Linked DNA regions of Homo sapiens. The protein of the gene in region 1 interacts with the protein of each later gene in a pairwise test. Each region holds a gene or a part of one and is shown in the gene's direction. Other genes may lie near its edges.

Region 1 (7,980 bases):
CCACTGCACTGCAGTCTGGGTGACAGGGTGAGACCCTGTCTCAACAAAACAAAACAAAACAAAACAGAAACAAATGTTACCCAGGCATGGTGGTGGGCACCTGTAGGCAGAGGTTGCAGTAAGCTGAGATTGCGCCACTGCACTCCAGCCTGGGCTATGGAGCAAGACTCCATCTCAAAAAGCAAACAAACAAAACCAAAATTCTGTCTGTCCTTCTTTTTAGGTTGCTGGAAATTAACAAGATAAATATAAATGCAAATAAAAATATGAGACACCAGTTGAATTTGAATTTTGGATAAACAACACTTTTTTATATATAGCTATGTCCTAAATATTGCATGTAAGTATTGCATAAGATGTATATTGCAACATGAATACTTGGGACATACTTATACTAAAACATTATTCATTGTTATCTGAAATTCAAGTTTAACTGGGTGTCCTATATTGTTTCCAACAACTGTAACATAACCTCTTGGCATCTACTTGTAGGGATTTTGTGAAATTTAGAACCAATATATGTAAACTAGTTATCACAAAGCCTACCACATAGCAGGAGATAAATAATAATAATAATAACTGAGGAAAGTTAATCTCATTTGGGCCATCTGGATAACCTGTGAATATTGGCAATCTCTCTTTCCATGCCATAGGTTATAGATAAGGAAGCAGGACCGGAAGAGTCTACACATGAATATTAATCAAGAAAGGAGATATTTATAATTTTATGCACCTAAACCTTTGCATGAAGATTTTTTATTGTTAAACCAGGCATGGTGGCCGTCTATAATCCCAGCACTTTGGGAGGCCAAGGCAGGAGGATTGCGACATGGTGAGACCTCTGTCTACAAAAAAAACCAAAATTAGCCAGGTGTGGTGGTGTGCACCTGTAGTCTCAGCTACTCAGAAGGCTGAAGTGGGAGGATTGTTTAAGCCCAGGAGGTCGAGGCTGCAGTGAGCCAGGACTGTACCACTGCACTCGAGTCTGGGCAACAAACCAAGACCCTGTGTCAAAAAAAAAAAAAGGTTTTTTTATTGTTAAAATATTCGCATATTTTCCAAATCTTTACAGTGTCAAAATTCTTTACATTAGTAACTTCTTCATTTTAAAACTTGAATGAAAACTTCAAAGTTACATTTACTTCTTTCAAATATGATTTCAATCCTAATTAGAAAACCACCTTCATTTTCTCAAGGTAAATTGCACCATCCACAAATGTTCCAGTTTCTTGTCTACCTAGTCTCTTAACTTCGTGTTATCTAAACTTGTTTATAATACTCTCCTGAAACCGCTGTTGAAGGTTACCAGGCTCTATTACGACAATCTCCTTCCTGCCTTCTTCCTTTCAATTCTATTATTACTTTCAATTCATCCTTGTTATATGAGTTTAACCTTTCTACAACACAAGTATCATTATATCAATCCCTCACTCAAAAACACCAAATGAAAACGAGTAGGATGAACGGTGGGAGGTAGGGTGAAGCCACATTATGGTGGCCCTTGCAAGTTGAACTTAAAGTGAGAAGTTTTTGAGAGGGGAATAACATGCTAAAAGGCATTGTTTTACTTAGATCATGCCAGTAACTGTGGGCAGATGAATTAGAGATGGCAAAGATCGGGGTAATCAGCTGTCGTAGGGATTAAGTATACTGTGCTGATAGGAAAGTCTTTCTCATAGGGCCTGGGCCTGCCAGAGAAACATTACCTTACTGAGAGGTTCATAGTTTTAAGTAGTAGAATCCTAATTTGGTTTGAGCTTATAGAGTTTAACATATATACAAAATGAGGCAGTTTAAAGTGTAGCAATTTGATTTTAGGCGTAAAAGCTATTATTTGAAGCACAAAAGAATTTCTGTGCAGTAATTTTAAAGCGTTGCTGAGTCACTTGGGCATGTGAGACCTTGCCCAGGAACATCTGGCTACTTACTTTAAAAGCCGTGACTATACTTAGCTGCATAAAAAAAGTCCTTTGGTCCTTTCCTCTGGATTCCAGGGCAGATGAACCAGGCAAACAATGTTTCAGCTATTGCTGTAAACTTGCAGGAACCTCTGCTTCTTAAGTACCTTTTAAGCTTCCAGGACTCCCTATCAAGTAATTACCATGCTAAATTGTAAAGAACCATAAACCCTTTCTCCCAGATCCCTATGGCCTATTCCAGGGAATAAGGGTTAGCAGAGGCAGTATTCAGGCTTGCTTTGTTCTTCTTCTTTTGTTTTCTTTTCTCTTTCTTTCTTTTCTTTCTTTCCTTACTTTTTTTTTTTTTTGACAGAGTTCTGCTCGTGTTGCCCAGGCTGGAGTGCAGTGGCACAATCTCCGCTCACTGTAACCTCCGCCTCCTAGATTCAAGCGATTCTCCTGCCTCAGCCTCCCAAGTAGCTGGGATTACAGGCATGTGCAACTATGCCCAGCTAATTTTGTATTTTTAGTAGAGATGGGGTTTCGCCATGTTGGCCAGGCTGGTTTCAAACCCCTGACCTCAGGTGATCCTCCCGCCTCGGCCTCCCAAAGTGCTGGGATTACAGGCGTGAGCCACCGCGCCCGGCCTTACTTTGTTCTTACACATATAGTAAGATTGTGTTCTCTAGGTAAGGAGTTTCTTGGTTAAAAGGAAAAAAATCCTAGTCTTAATTGCCCCTTCAGAACTAGGAAATTTGTCTTTAGACCAAAGCAGCAGGAAACAAGAATCGAAAGGAGTTAAAACAAGTGTAGAGAGATAGGAGAACCCAGGAAAGGGGGAATGCTCAGAGAATCCAGTGCCTGGAAATCTAGAAGCATGAATTACTAGATTTTCCCAAGCAAAAATGATCAGACTTTGCAGATTGCTGTTTCAGAAAGAGGGGAGTTCAGAATAAAGGTTGCAAGAGGAAGTGGGAGAGCTGGTAGTAGAAAGCAGAAGTTTTTTGTATACTCTGTTTAGTTTCTCACTTCCTGTGAGCACAACTTCGTTACCACCTGCAGCCTGTGCTGTCTTTTCACCTTTTACTTTAGAACTAACTGTTCAGTCTACCCATCAAAAGATGGGTACATTTACTTCCTCCATCAAGTCTTCACTGAAGATTTCAGATTCTATTTCTTTCTCAATTCCCTGAAATATTAGTGAGCTCAGTCACAATCACACCGTTTAGCATATAATAGTTGCATCAAAAGAAGGCTCGGCGCCGTTGCTCACGCTTGTAATCCCAGCACTTTGCCGGGCTGAGGCAGAAGGATCACTTGAGCTCAGGAGTTCAAGGCCAGCCTGGGCAAAAAAAAATTGTCTCTAAAAAAAAAAAAAGAAAAAAGTGTGAGCCTGCTTTCTTCCAACTAGGCAATGTATTTCTTGAATTTGGAGACTATATAAAAATATATTTATATACATAATCTATATTTATATATAAATATATAACATATATAATATATAATATATAAATATATAACATATATAATATATAATATATAAATCTATAACATATATAATATATAATATATAACATATATAATATATAATATATAATATATATAACATATATAATATATAATATATAACATATATAACACATATAATATATAAATATATAACATATATAATATATAACATATAACATATATAATATATAAATATATAACATATATAATATATAATATATAAATATATAACATATATAATATATAATATATAAATATATAACATATATAATATATAATATATAAATATATAACATATATAATATATAATATATAAATATATAACATATATAATATATAAATGTATAACATATATAATATATAAATATATAACATATAACATATATATCTAAATATATAACATATATAATATATAATATCTAAATATATAACATATATAATATATAATATCTAAATATATGACATATATAATATATAATATCTAAATATATAACATATATAATATATAATATATAAATATATGACATATATAATATATCTAAATATATAACATATATAATATATAATATCTAAATATATAACATATATAATATATAATATCTAAATATATAACATATAATATATAATATCTAAATATATAACATATATAATATATAATTTATATATAATTATAATATATGCAATATCTATATAAAATATATATATTTTTGAGACATAGTTTCGCTCTTGTTGCCCAGGCTGGAGTGCAGTGGCATGATATCGGCTCACTGCAACCTCTGCCTCCCGGGTTCAAGCGATTCTCCTGCCTCAGCCTCCCGAGTACCTGGGATTACAGGCATGCGCCGCCACGCCAGGCTAATTTTTTTGTATTTTTACTACAGACGGGGTTTCTCCATGTTGGCCAGGCGGGTCTCGAATTCCCGACCTCAGGTGATCAGCCTGCGTTGACCTCCCAAAGTGCTGGGATTACAGACGTGAACCACTGCGCCCGGCCTGGAGATTATATTTTAAAGTTATTTTGAATACTCCCTGGAAAAGTTCTTGGTTCATACTTATACCCGTAAGTCAAAAGATTTGTCAAATATTCAAGAACAATCAAACAATCACTTAAAAATACTGTATAAAAGTTTCTATTTCGGCATACTTTACTTTTACTTAACTAAAATTTCAAATAAAATGTATCCACTTTTATGATCTCAACAAGATCGGTCATTCCTATAGCGGAGTTGAAAACTTTCAACTTATTCACAATTATCAAAAGAATGGAGCAGCCCCCACAGAGACTTCCAGCAATGAGTTGTAAAATGCAGTCTGCATTAAGTAGCTTCCTTACAATCATCCCGATGGTAAAAGTGTCAAATTTCGCAAACGCCTGGACAAGGAAGTGAAATGATCATCTAATAACGCAGTTGACTCATCTGTCAAATAAGCGAGTGGGCCAGGGTCCCTGAGCTCACTACCCTCAGATTCTAACTCCAGCTTCACATCATTAGGCGTAAGCAGCCAATTGGGCCGTCTGGGAGCCGTGCATCCTGGGAGTTATAGTTTCCGGCTCCCTCCTTCAGATTACAAGCTCCACAGAGCCGCGGGAGGACGGTTGCCTGGTATTATTAGCAAGCAGCAAATATGGCGGTGGCGCGCGTGGACGCGGCTTTGCCTCCCGGAGAAGGTAAGGCGATCCCTACCCCGAGTCCTAAGGTTTACTTCACGGAGCTGAATTAAATAGTGGAGAGCAGAAAACCTAGGTTTAGATGTGCAGTTCTGGACCAGTTCTTTTGATGCGGATCTGTGGTCGTCGCGGAGGCGGGCTACCCTCTGGGAGTTGTAGTTCACCTGCCGTTCCCAGCTCTCCGGCGTCGCGGTGAGGGCCGAGCGGGGGACTACAGCCCCCAGAAGCCTTCGCGCGGCCCGGCGCCCTGGCTCCCGCGCTCCCGATGCTGAGGAGGCGGTGGATTTCGGGCTGCGATGACCTTTCTTGACCATTTACTTTGAGTCATGGGTGCCTAAGCGAAATGTTTGGGATCTCCCTCTTTCGCTTCACACATCTCCCTCTCTTCTTGGTTCCTGGAACCATCAGGAAAACCTTCCCTCAGAGACCGCTGCCTAGTCTGGCTTTGAACCCTTCCTCGGAGGTGGCCAGTGGCCGTGATAAAATCTAAGGGATGATCCAGAGCCCGCAGTTCTGTACTCCTTGTTCTTGCACACGGGTCCTAGGATCGAGTTTGGTCGCTGCCCAGTAGAGCACAGGACTGTGTGGGTGCTTCTGTGGCCTGAAGATACCTACCTCTTTGGGGCGCCGGACGCGAGCTGCTTTTGTTTTGGTTACAGCTCCGAGGCTTGGCAGCAGTCAGTCCTCTAAATCGGGGACAGGGCCCAGGGGTCGAGGCCCGTCTTCATGGCTTAGACCAGGAGTGCATTTTCTGGGAGCTGTAAATTCTTGGGGGAAGAGTTGGTGGATGGTTCTCAGACCTCTCTGTCGACCCCTTGGAATTGTGTACAAAGGCTGTGCACTTTTCTGAGACAGCACACCCCTTTCATCAATTTTTCAGAGGGGCTCACGACTCCTCACATGCTAAGAGCCATTAGACAACGGGAAAACGTTGAAATCCTCCAGGAGAGCAATCTGGCATAATTATTTCCTGCAGTAGTCCTAATCTGGGTGTAAATTTGAAATTGGCCGTTTCTCTGGCCCCGCCCTCTTTGGAGATCGGCTTTTCTTAAACCACACCTCTCAAGCCCACCAGGGCTACTTAACTGTTAATAGCAGTTAACATTTACAGAGCACTTTGTATGACCCAGGCGATGTTCTCAGTCCTTTTTTTTTTTGTTTTTTTTTTTACATTATCTCATTTTCTCTGTAGAACTACATTTATAAGGCAGGTATTATCCCCACTTTACAGAGTAGAAAAGGGAGCCCAAAAGAAATCAATAATTTGCCTAATATACCACAATGGTTAATTGGTGGAGCCAGGGTTTGAACGTCTATGTTATACTAAAGTGCCTTATTGAGTGCCCGGTGGCAGGAACGGGGCTAAGTACTATTCATATGGTTTCTCTTTTAATTCTCATATCAAGCTAGGGAAATGGGTGTATTATCCTATTTTATGGGAGAATTAGTTGAACTATACTTTGATTTTCAAAATCACAGTTTGGGCACTTTAGGATATATTGGTAGTTAGGCTGTAAGCTGGTGGATTGCAGTCAAAAGTTTAGTAACATTTAAACAATAGTATCATTACTTAGGCACAACAAATGGAAGTAATCGTCCATATTTAAATGTGAAAATTTTCAAAGTATATCTTAGCAACTTGAGGAGAATATCACACGTCTAGTTTTAATTTGATATTTCTGAAGAAAAATGAGTAATTCAATCTGGTCATTTAGAACTCAAGATTGCTTTAATTTTACAATGTTGATATTTATTATGCTCTACTGTTCTTTAACTTGAAATGGTATAGAGATTTTATAATTCCAGCCCTATGCTTAGCTGTTGTACATGTTTTATTTTATTTGTGTTTTCTAACATTTCCGTTTCTTTTCAAGGATCAGTGGTCAATTGGTCAGGACAGGGACTACAGAAATTAGGTCCAAATTTACCCTGTGAAGCTGATATTCACACTTTGATTCTGGATAAAAATCAGATTATTAAATTGGAAAATCTGGAGAAATGCAAACGATTAATACAGGTAGGTATTGCAATCTGGGAAATGGTTACATAGGATCAATTTATTATTAAACAAAACAATAAAATAACCTGACAAAAAGTAACTGTGCAGCCCTAGCAAGCAGTCATTGTTGCCTTAAATTTTTACATGACAGTTTCTTCTGAAGATGAACATACATGTACTACATTGAGAGTAGATTAGAAAAAAAAAGCATTGTTAAGAAAAGGAAGCATTTTATTTTGCAAAATACTGTGTTACTAAGGTAACCTTTTACCTCATGATGGGGGTAAAGAGTTCATTCATTCCTTCATTCAAGAAATGGTTACTGCGTCCCTCTTATATGTCTGGCACTGTATTAAGTTTTGACTGAGAGTTTAACAGCACTATTCTTGTGGAACTTACATTCTCAAGTTGTTGCTGTGTTAAAAATGTCTTAGTAGTTAGAGGAGGTCTGATCGCTCAGCTTTATCTGTATTTTCTATTGCCCAGGAACAATAACAAAAAACTGATAGTCATACTGTAGAATATTTAGACAATATATGTGAAATGTACAAAAGGAGTTTGTTTGAGAGTGTTTGGCTGTCTAAATAAACCTTTTAAATCACTTTAATGTGAAATATTTTATATATGTTATTCCTAAAAATAACAATATGTTTCCTTTTTACAGTTATCAGTAGCTAATAATCGGCTGGTTCGGATGATGGGTGTGGCCAAGCTGACGTTGCTTCGTGTATTAAATTTGCCTCATAATAGCATTGGCTGTGTGGAAGGGCTAAAGGAACTAGTACATCTGGAATGGCTGAATTTGGCAGGAAATAATCTTAAGGTGAATGGTTTCTTTTTTGTTTACAAAACTATTCTGCGTAAAAAAAATTCAAGCAATGTAGAAATAAGTCAAATTAAAAAGT
Region 2 (7,042 bases), on another chromosome or scaffold:
TTTTGTCAAAATATGAATTTTGATATTTAGATCCTTATCTAAAAGTAATTGCATAATTTATCGAGAATATTTTATTGAATCCTTGATTTAAAGCTTAATATTTTAAAAAGGTATTTTATAAATAGGTGCTAAAGTACACATTCTGCAGGAGTTGTATCATAAAAATGACACTCATGCTGGGCGTGGTATCATGAGCCTGTAGTCCCAGCTATGCAGGAGGCTGAGGTGGGAGGATTGCTTGAGCCCAGAAATTCAAGGCTGCAGTGAGCTATGATTTCGCCTTTGTCTAGCCACTGCACTCCAGCCTGGGCAACAGAGGGAGACCCTGTCTCTATAAAAAGAAAAAAAAAAAGAACGACACTTGTTATAATATTATTATAATTAATAATTTAACTATACATTATCACATATTAAATTATAGCCTGGGCGTGGTGGCTCACGCCTGTAATCCCAGCACTTTGGGAGGCCGAGGTGGATGGATCACCTGAGGTCAGGAGTTTGAGACCAGCCTGGCCAACATATAGTGAAATCCCATCTCTACTAAAAAATACAAAATGGTGGTGTATGGACCTGTAGTCCCAGCTACTTGGGAAACTGAGGCAGGAGAATCACTTGAACCCGCAAGGTGGAGATTGCAGTGAACCGAGATCGTGCCACTGCACTCCAGCCTGGGGGACAGAGCGAGATTCTGTTTCTTGAAACAAGAAAGAGAGAGAGAGGAGAGAGAGAGAGAGAGAGAGAGAGAGAGAGAGAAAGGAAGGAAGGAAAGAAAAGAAAAGAGGGAGGGAGGGAAGGGAAGGGAAGGGAGAAGGAAGGAAGGATAATTTGAGGAAGAAAAACTTGAAATAAATAATAATTGCTGATAATTACATGTACTTTTGGCTAAGCCTAAAATGATATCATTTTGGGACATAATTAAAAGGTTTAGCATGTTACAATAAACTGTTCATGTATAGGAAATAGAAGAGCAGGAGAAAATGTTAAAAGAGAAGAAGGCAATGACAGCGGAAGCCTCTGAGTTGGACATTAACAATGCAGTGGAATTAGAATGGAGAAAAATAAGTGACTCTAGTTTGCTGGAAACAATGCTGTCTCAAGCGGACTCACTCCATACTTCAAATTCAAATAGTTCTGGTAAATATTTAAAAATCCTTTTACATTTGGGAAAGTGATCCTACGGTAAGATATTTATTTGGCACACTATAAGATTATATCTCCTGTTTTCAAATGATTCCATGTCCAACCCTCTTTGCCAGCTGCTTAGTAACCAGTGAAAAATGACATGATAGGAGATCAAAGACTTGTGAGCAGATGTTTGTGAACAAAGATTACCTTTGCCAGGAAAAGATCAGGAAATTTGGCTTAGAGCCCAGTCTGATCATTCATGCAGCAGGTGATATACTTCAAGTGAAAACAGTTTGCTCTCTCCTGAGTGATCTTGAATTACCTCTAATTCCCTAGTCCCTTTAAATAGCTTATCTTCATATCTCAATTATCCTGAGATGCTGTTTGTGTTGAAAAGATCCACCTGGTATGTAAGCTTTAAAGTCCATAAATATTTTAAGTCGGCAGGTAGGTCATTTTTGGAGGCAGTTGTTATTCTTAATGAGTGTCACAAGTGTTTATTGGGATGTTCTTCGTATTCTAATTATATGACATCAAGTATAATACTATATGTATGTTTCTCTAGGTTTCACAAATTCTGCCATGCAATATAGCTTTGTTTCTGCAAACGAAGCACCATTCTACCTCTGGGGATCATCAACTAGTGGCTTGACCAAACTCTCAGTAACAAGGCCTTTTGGAAGAGCCAAAACTAGATGGTCTCAAGTGGGTAAACTTAATGATACATGTCCATCTATCTATTTATCTTTTCTTAAGAGCTATATTATCTTAGACTGTATAAATGAACACCAATAAACATTGTGTCTGTCTTCTTTCTCCTAGGTTTTTAGTCTGGAAATACAAGCAAAATTTAACAAAATAACTGCAGTGGCAAAAGGATTTCTTACTCGTAGACTTATGCAGACAGATAAGCTGAAGCAACTTCGACAAACTGTAAAAGTAAGATTCCTGTAAATCGTTTGTATTTCACTTCTGTCTTAGTTTCTATCAGTCTTGTGACAGCTGAGCTAACAGATTAGTTCAGAACTTAAACGCTTTTTAGTCACTGTAATCTAGGCAGTTTTAGAAGTCTGATTGTTTGTTGCGGGAAGTCAGGGACCCCGAATGGAGGGACCAGCTGGAGCCGCAGCAAAGGAATATAAATTGTGAAGATTTCATTTTAATATGGACATATATCAGTTCCCAAATAACACTTTTATAATTTCTTACTCCTGTCTTTACTTCAATTGCTGAACATAAATTGTGAAGATTTCATTTTAATATGGACATTTATCAGTTCCCAAAATTAATACTTTTATAATTTCTTATGCCTGTCTTTAATCTCTTAATCCTGTTATCTTCATAAGCTGAGGATGTAGGTCACCTCAGGACCACTATTGTGTTAACTCTACAAATTGATTGCAAAACATGTGTGTTTGAACAATAGGAAATCAGTGCAACTTGAAAAAGAACAGAATAACAGCGTTTTTCAGGGAACAAGGGAAGACAACCATAACTGACTGCCTGCGAGGTCGGGCAAAATAGAGCCATATTTTTCGTCTTGCAGAGAGCCTATAAACGGACGTGCAAGTAGGGAAGATATTGCTAAATTCTTTTCCTAGCAAGGAATATTAATAATTAATACCCTGGGGAAGGAATGCATCCCTGGGGGGAGGTATATAAACGGCCACTCTGGGAGTATCTGTCTTATGCGGTTGAGATAAGGACTAAAATATGCCCTGGTCTCCTGCAGTACCCTCAGGCTTACTAGGATTGGGAAATTCCACCCTGGTAAATTTGTGGTCGGACCAGTTCTCTGCTCTCAAACCCTGTTTCCTTTTAAGATGTTTATCAAGACAATACGTGCACAGCTGAACATAGACCCTTATCAGTAGTTCTGATTTTGCCCTTGTCCTGTTTCCTCAGAAGCATGTGATCTTTGTTCTCCTTTTTGCCCTTTGAAGCATGTGATCTTTGTGACCTACTCCCTGTTCTTGCACCCCCTCCCCTTTTGAAATCCTTAATGAAACTTGCTGGCTTTAAGGCTCAGGTGGGCATCATGGTCCTACCAATATGTGATGTCCCCCTCGGACGCCCAGCAGTAAAATTCCTCTCTTTGTACTCTTTCTCTTTATTTCTCATCTGGCTGACACTTATGAAAAATAGAAAGAACCTATGTTGAAATATTGGGGGCTGGTCCCCCCAATAATCGTTAATCTTTCTCAGATAATATTATGAATAACATGTAAATGAAGCAGTTTGTGTGTTTTTGACTTGCTTGAAAGTGAGTGGTTTGACTTCTGATAAGTAATAGTTTTATTTATGTTCTTAGTACAGTCGGTCCTCTATCTCTGGGTTCCACATCTGTGGATTCAACGAACCATGGATCAAAAATAATTCAGAAAAAACAAATGATGGTTGTGTCTGTACTGAACATGTACAAATTTTTTTTCCTTGTCATTATTTCCTAAACAATATAACAACTATTTACATAGCATGTACATTTATTAGGTATTTTAACTAATCTAGAGATGATTTAAAGTATATGGGAGATGTGCTTAGGTTATATGCAGATAACTATTTTATATAAGGGACTCCAGCATCCTTGGATTTTGGTATCTGAGGGATTCATGGAACCAGTCCCCCACAGATACTGACGAAAGACTGTAATTTTGGATTGACTGAGAAAAAGAAAAAAGCAAACTCCAGTGATCACAAATCTTTCTAGAAAAATGTTTTTGAAGGAGCATTTCTTTTTTCAGGATACTATGGAATTCATAAGAAGTTTTCAGTCAGAAGCACCATTAAAGAGAGGCATTGTTTCAGCTCAAGATGCTTCACTTCAGGAAAGAGTGTTAGCTCAGGTAAATACATGGATCCTGAAGGCTTTTAAGACATGGACATATTATATTTCTCCTTTTTTATTTAATCACTGAAAATAGGTTTCAATGAAAACTATTTTAATCTTTTTCTATAAATAAGTGTACATGGTATATAGTATTCCTGAACTCTAACCTCATCTTTTAAATGTATACAATATTTTCTTCTCTTGTGCCTAGTTGCGAGCTGCCTTGTACGGTATTCATGACATATTCTTTGTAATGGATGCAGCTGAAAGAATGTCTATTCTACATCATGATCGAGAAGTTCGCAAAGAGAAAATGCTCAGGCAAATGGTATGTTATATGATTTCTAATGAATAGAGTTCTTCTGGGTTTAGGGTAATTGATACTAAATGTCAGTTTTGGTTGACTTCAGCACCCTTCTTCTGATAATTCTTAAGCACAAGTAATTCCTGGAATTACTAGCAGCATTTAAATCTGTAGACAGATTTAAAAGAATTACATCATTTAAGAATTACATATTGTTTTCTTATTGGATTTTAGAGTTGAAGCTTTGAATGTTTTGCTCAGATGGCTTATACAATCTATCAGCTGCTCCTGATTGAATTTCCTTGAATTCAATTATAATGTGGGTTTTGCTTTTTTTGAAATCTGAGTTAGAAAACAGGCTCCAAGTTAATTTGAAGTATATCAGAGTATGTGATTTGAATCAGTTATCTTAGTGTGATTGGCAAAGGAAAAGCAAGCAAAATTTACATAATTCTAATTATTTAATTCTTAGAATTAGACTGCTTCAAAAATACAAAACAAGATGATTTAACTAAATTAAAAATGTTAGTAGAGAGAAGCTTTTCCAGGCAATGTGGGATTATAATACATTATAATATAGTGGTATTAATTGGTTCCAGTAGAGTTTGACGTTACTTTTGTATATTAAAGGATAAAATGAAAAGTCCACGAGTGGCTCTTTCAGCTGCAACACAGAAGTCTCTTGATAGGAAGAAATACATGAAGTAAGTTTTTTGTATCATGTCATGTTAGTTATCAAACCAATTAATTTTAGTCATCTGTTGGTCTATTTGCATATTTAAATTTAGAAATAAAGAGTTAATTTTTCTGCAGTTGAGCTGATAGAAATCCCCTTTATATAAAGAAATTTATTAAAATCAGGTGCTAAAATCTCATTTCATCTTAGATGAATTTATTTACTAAATTTGACAACATTCAACTCATATAACTGATAGCTGGTTAATCTTAAAAACAGTTAATCTTTATATTCAGTGCCTAAATATATTCCTTTTCTGATGTCCTAAAGGTTTCTTGGGAATAAAGACTTAATGGGAAAAATATCTTAATAACTTTTTTAAAAAATTCTTCTTTCTTGAATGCAGTCTTTAATATGCTTAGTACAGGTCTTCCAGTAGTACACCAGCTTCTAAATGATGATTTGTTTCTGTCATCCTGTATTACATTTGTAAGCATGTTTTCTTCCCTTCTCTAAATACATTATGTCCTTATTTTTATATTGTGTTAGAGCTGCTGAAATGGGAATGCCAAATAAGAAATTTCTGGTTAAACAAAATCCTTCTGAAACAAGGTGAGAAAAATCACTTAGTCTTAATGAGAGGCTTTTTGTTTTTTATAGAAAAAAAAAATTGGCTGGGCACGGTGGCTCACGCCTGTAATCCCAGAACTTTGGGAGGCCAAGACGGATGGATCACCTGAGGTCGGGAGTTTGAGACCAGCCTGACCAACATGGAAAACCCCATCTCTACTAAAAATACAAAATTAGCTGGGTGTGGTGGCACATGCCTGTAATCCCAGCTACTCAAGAGGCTGAGGCAGGAGAATCGCTTGAACCCGGGAGGCAGAGGTTGCAGTGAGCCAAGATTGCTCCATTGCACTCCAGCCTGGGCAACAAGAGTGAAACTCTATCTCAAAAAAAAAAAAAAAAAAAGTTAAAAAATTAAAATTTAAATCCCAAACTTCATTTTTGTTGACTTTGTTCTACTTGACATCAGTAGAGCACTTCTTGCTGAATTGGGTCGGGGGTCGTCCTCAGGCTCAAGATTCATACCAATACCTGGCCATATACCTAGTCACATGTCAGACCAGATGTGCCCGGACCTTTTGTAGGACATGCTATCTGTGGTAGAAATTTTGAGCGTGGTATGTCTTGAGTTCAGTTAGACAGTCCAGAGGATCTTTGATACTTATTTAAAAACCTTAGAAAGCTAATTTAAGCTGGGCTGGGAGCAGTGGCTCATGCTTGTTATCCTAGCAGTCTGGGAGGGTGAGGTGGGTGGATCACGAGGTCAGGAGTTCAAGACCAGCCTGGCCAAGATGGTGAAATCCTGTCTCTATTAAAAATACAAAAATAAAAGATACAAAAAGCCGGGTATGATGGCGCGTGCCTGCTCAGCTACTCAGGAGGCTGAGGCAGGAGAATTGTTTGAACCTGGGAGGCGGAGGTTGCAGTGAGCCGAGACTGCACCACTGTACTCCATCCTGGGCGACAGAGCAAGGGTCCGTCTCAAAAAAAAGCTAACTTAAGCTGGGCACAGTGGCATGCTCCTATGGTCCCAGGTACTCGGGAGGCTGAGGCAGGAGGATAGCTTAAGCCCAGAAATTCAAACCAGTATGGGTAACATAGTAAGACCCATCTCAAAAAAATAAATAAATAAAAAATAAAGCTAAAAAGCGAACTTTAATATTTCTGACCTGTTTTTTACTCCTGTAAAATGAGAGTGATACTTTCTTCTCTCACTGGTTTGAAGGGAAAAGTTAGCTTTTGTAAAGCATATGTATAAGAAAATTATCTAAAAGCACAAGGGTTAGTCTATATGTTGGACATTTCTTTGCTGATAAAAACCTAAGGTTTGGACTCTTAGTGAGCAAAATACAAGTATCATATTAATATGCTTTAGTCGATTTGCTCTGATTTGTGGTAATATATAGGCCATATTATTGCATAGTTGACCTTTACCTTACAGTCATCATCTTTCATCCGTTGAAAGAAAATGGGAAAAAATGGAATTTAACCTATTAAATTAATTTTTCATTTAATTTGTCAACAGAGTCCTTCAGCCAAACCA

The links. The genes of interacting proteins can lie anywhere in the genome.
Region 2: the proteins of CEP97 (region 1) and CCP110 interact in binary tests that used the Homo sapiens proteins (3 or more experiments, as listed by UniProt).

The regions. Positions count from the first base shown.
Region 1 is NC_000003.12:101,719,644-101,727,623, forward strand, and holds the start of CEP97 (centrosomal protein of 97 kDa), read left to right. Parts: upstream 1-4,970; 5' UTR 4,971-5,033; coding exon 5,034-5,076; intron 5,077-6,950; coding exon 6,951-7,093; intron 7,094-7,739; coding exon 7,740-7,898; intron 7,899-7,980. UniProt on the Homo sapiens protein: Acts as a key negative regulator of ciliogenesis in collaboration with CCP110 by capping the mother centriole thereby preventing cilia formation. Required for recruitment of CCP110 to the centrosome.
Region 2 is NC_000016.10:19,540,931-19,547,972, forward strand, and holds part of CCP110 (centriolar coiled-coil protein of 110 kDa), read left to right. Parts: intron 1-956; coding exon 957-1,134; intron 1,135-1,690; coding exon 1,691-1,830; intron 1,831-1,947; coding exon 1,948-2,064; intron 2,065-3,866; coding exon 3,867-3,968; intron 3,969-4,163; coding exon 4,164-4,280; intron 4,281-4,886; coding exon 4,887-4,960; intron 4,961-5,481; coding exon 5,482-5,544; intron 5,545-7,024; coding exon 7,025-7,042.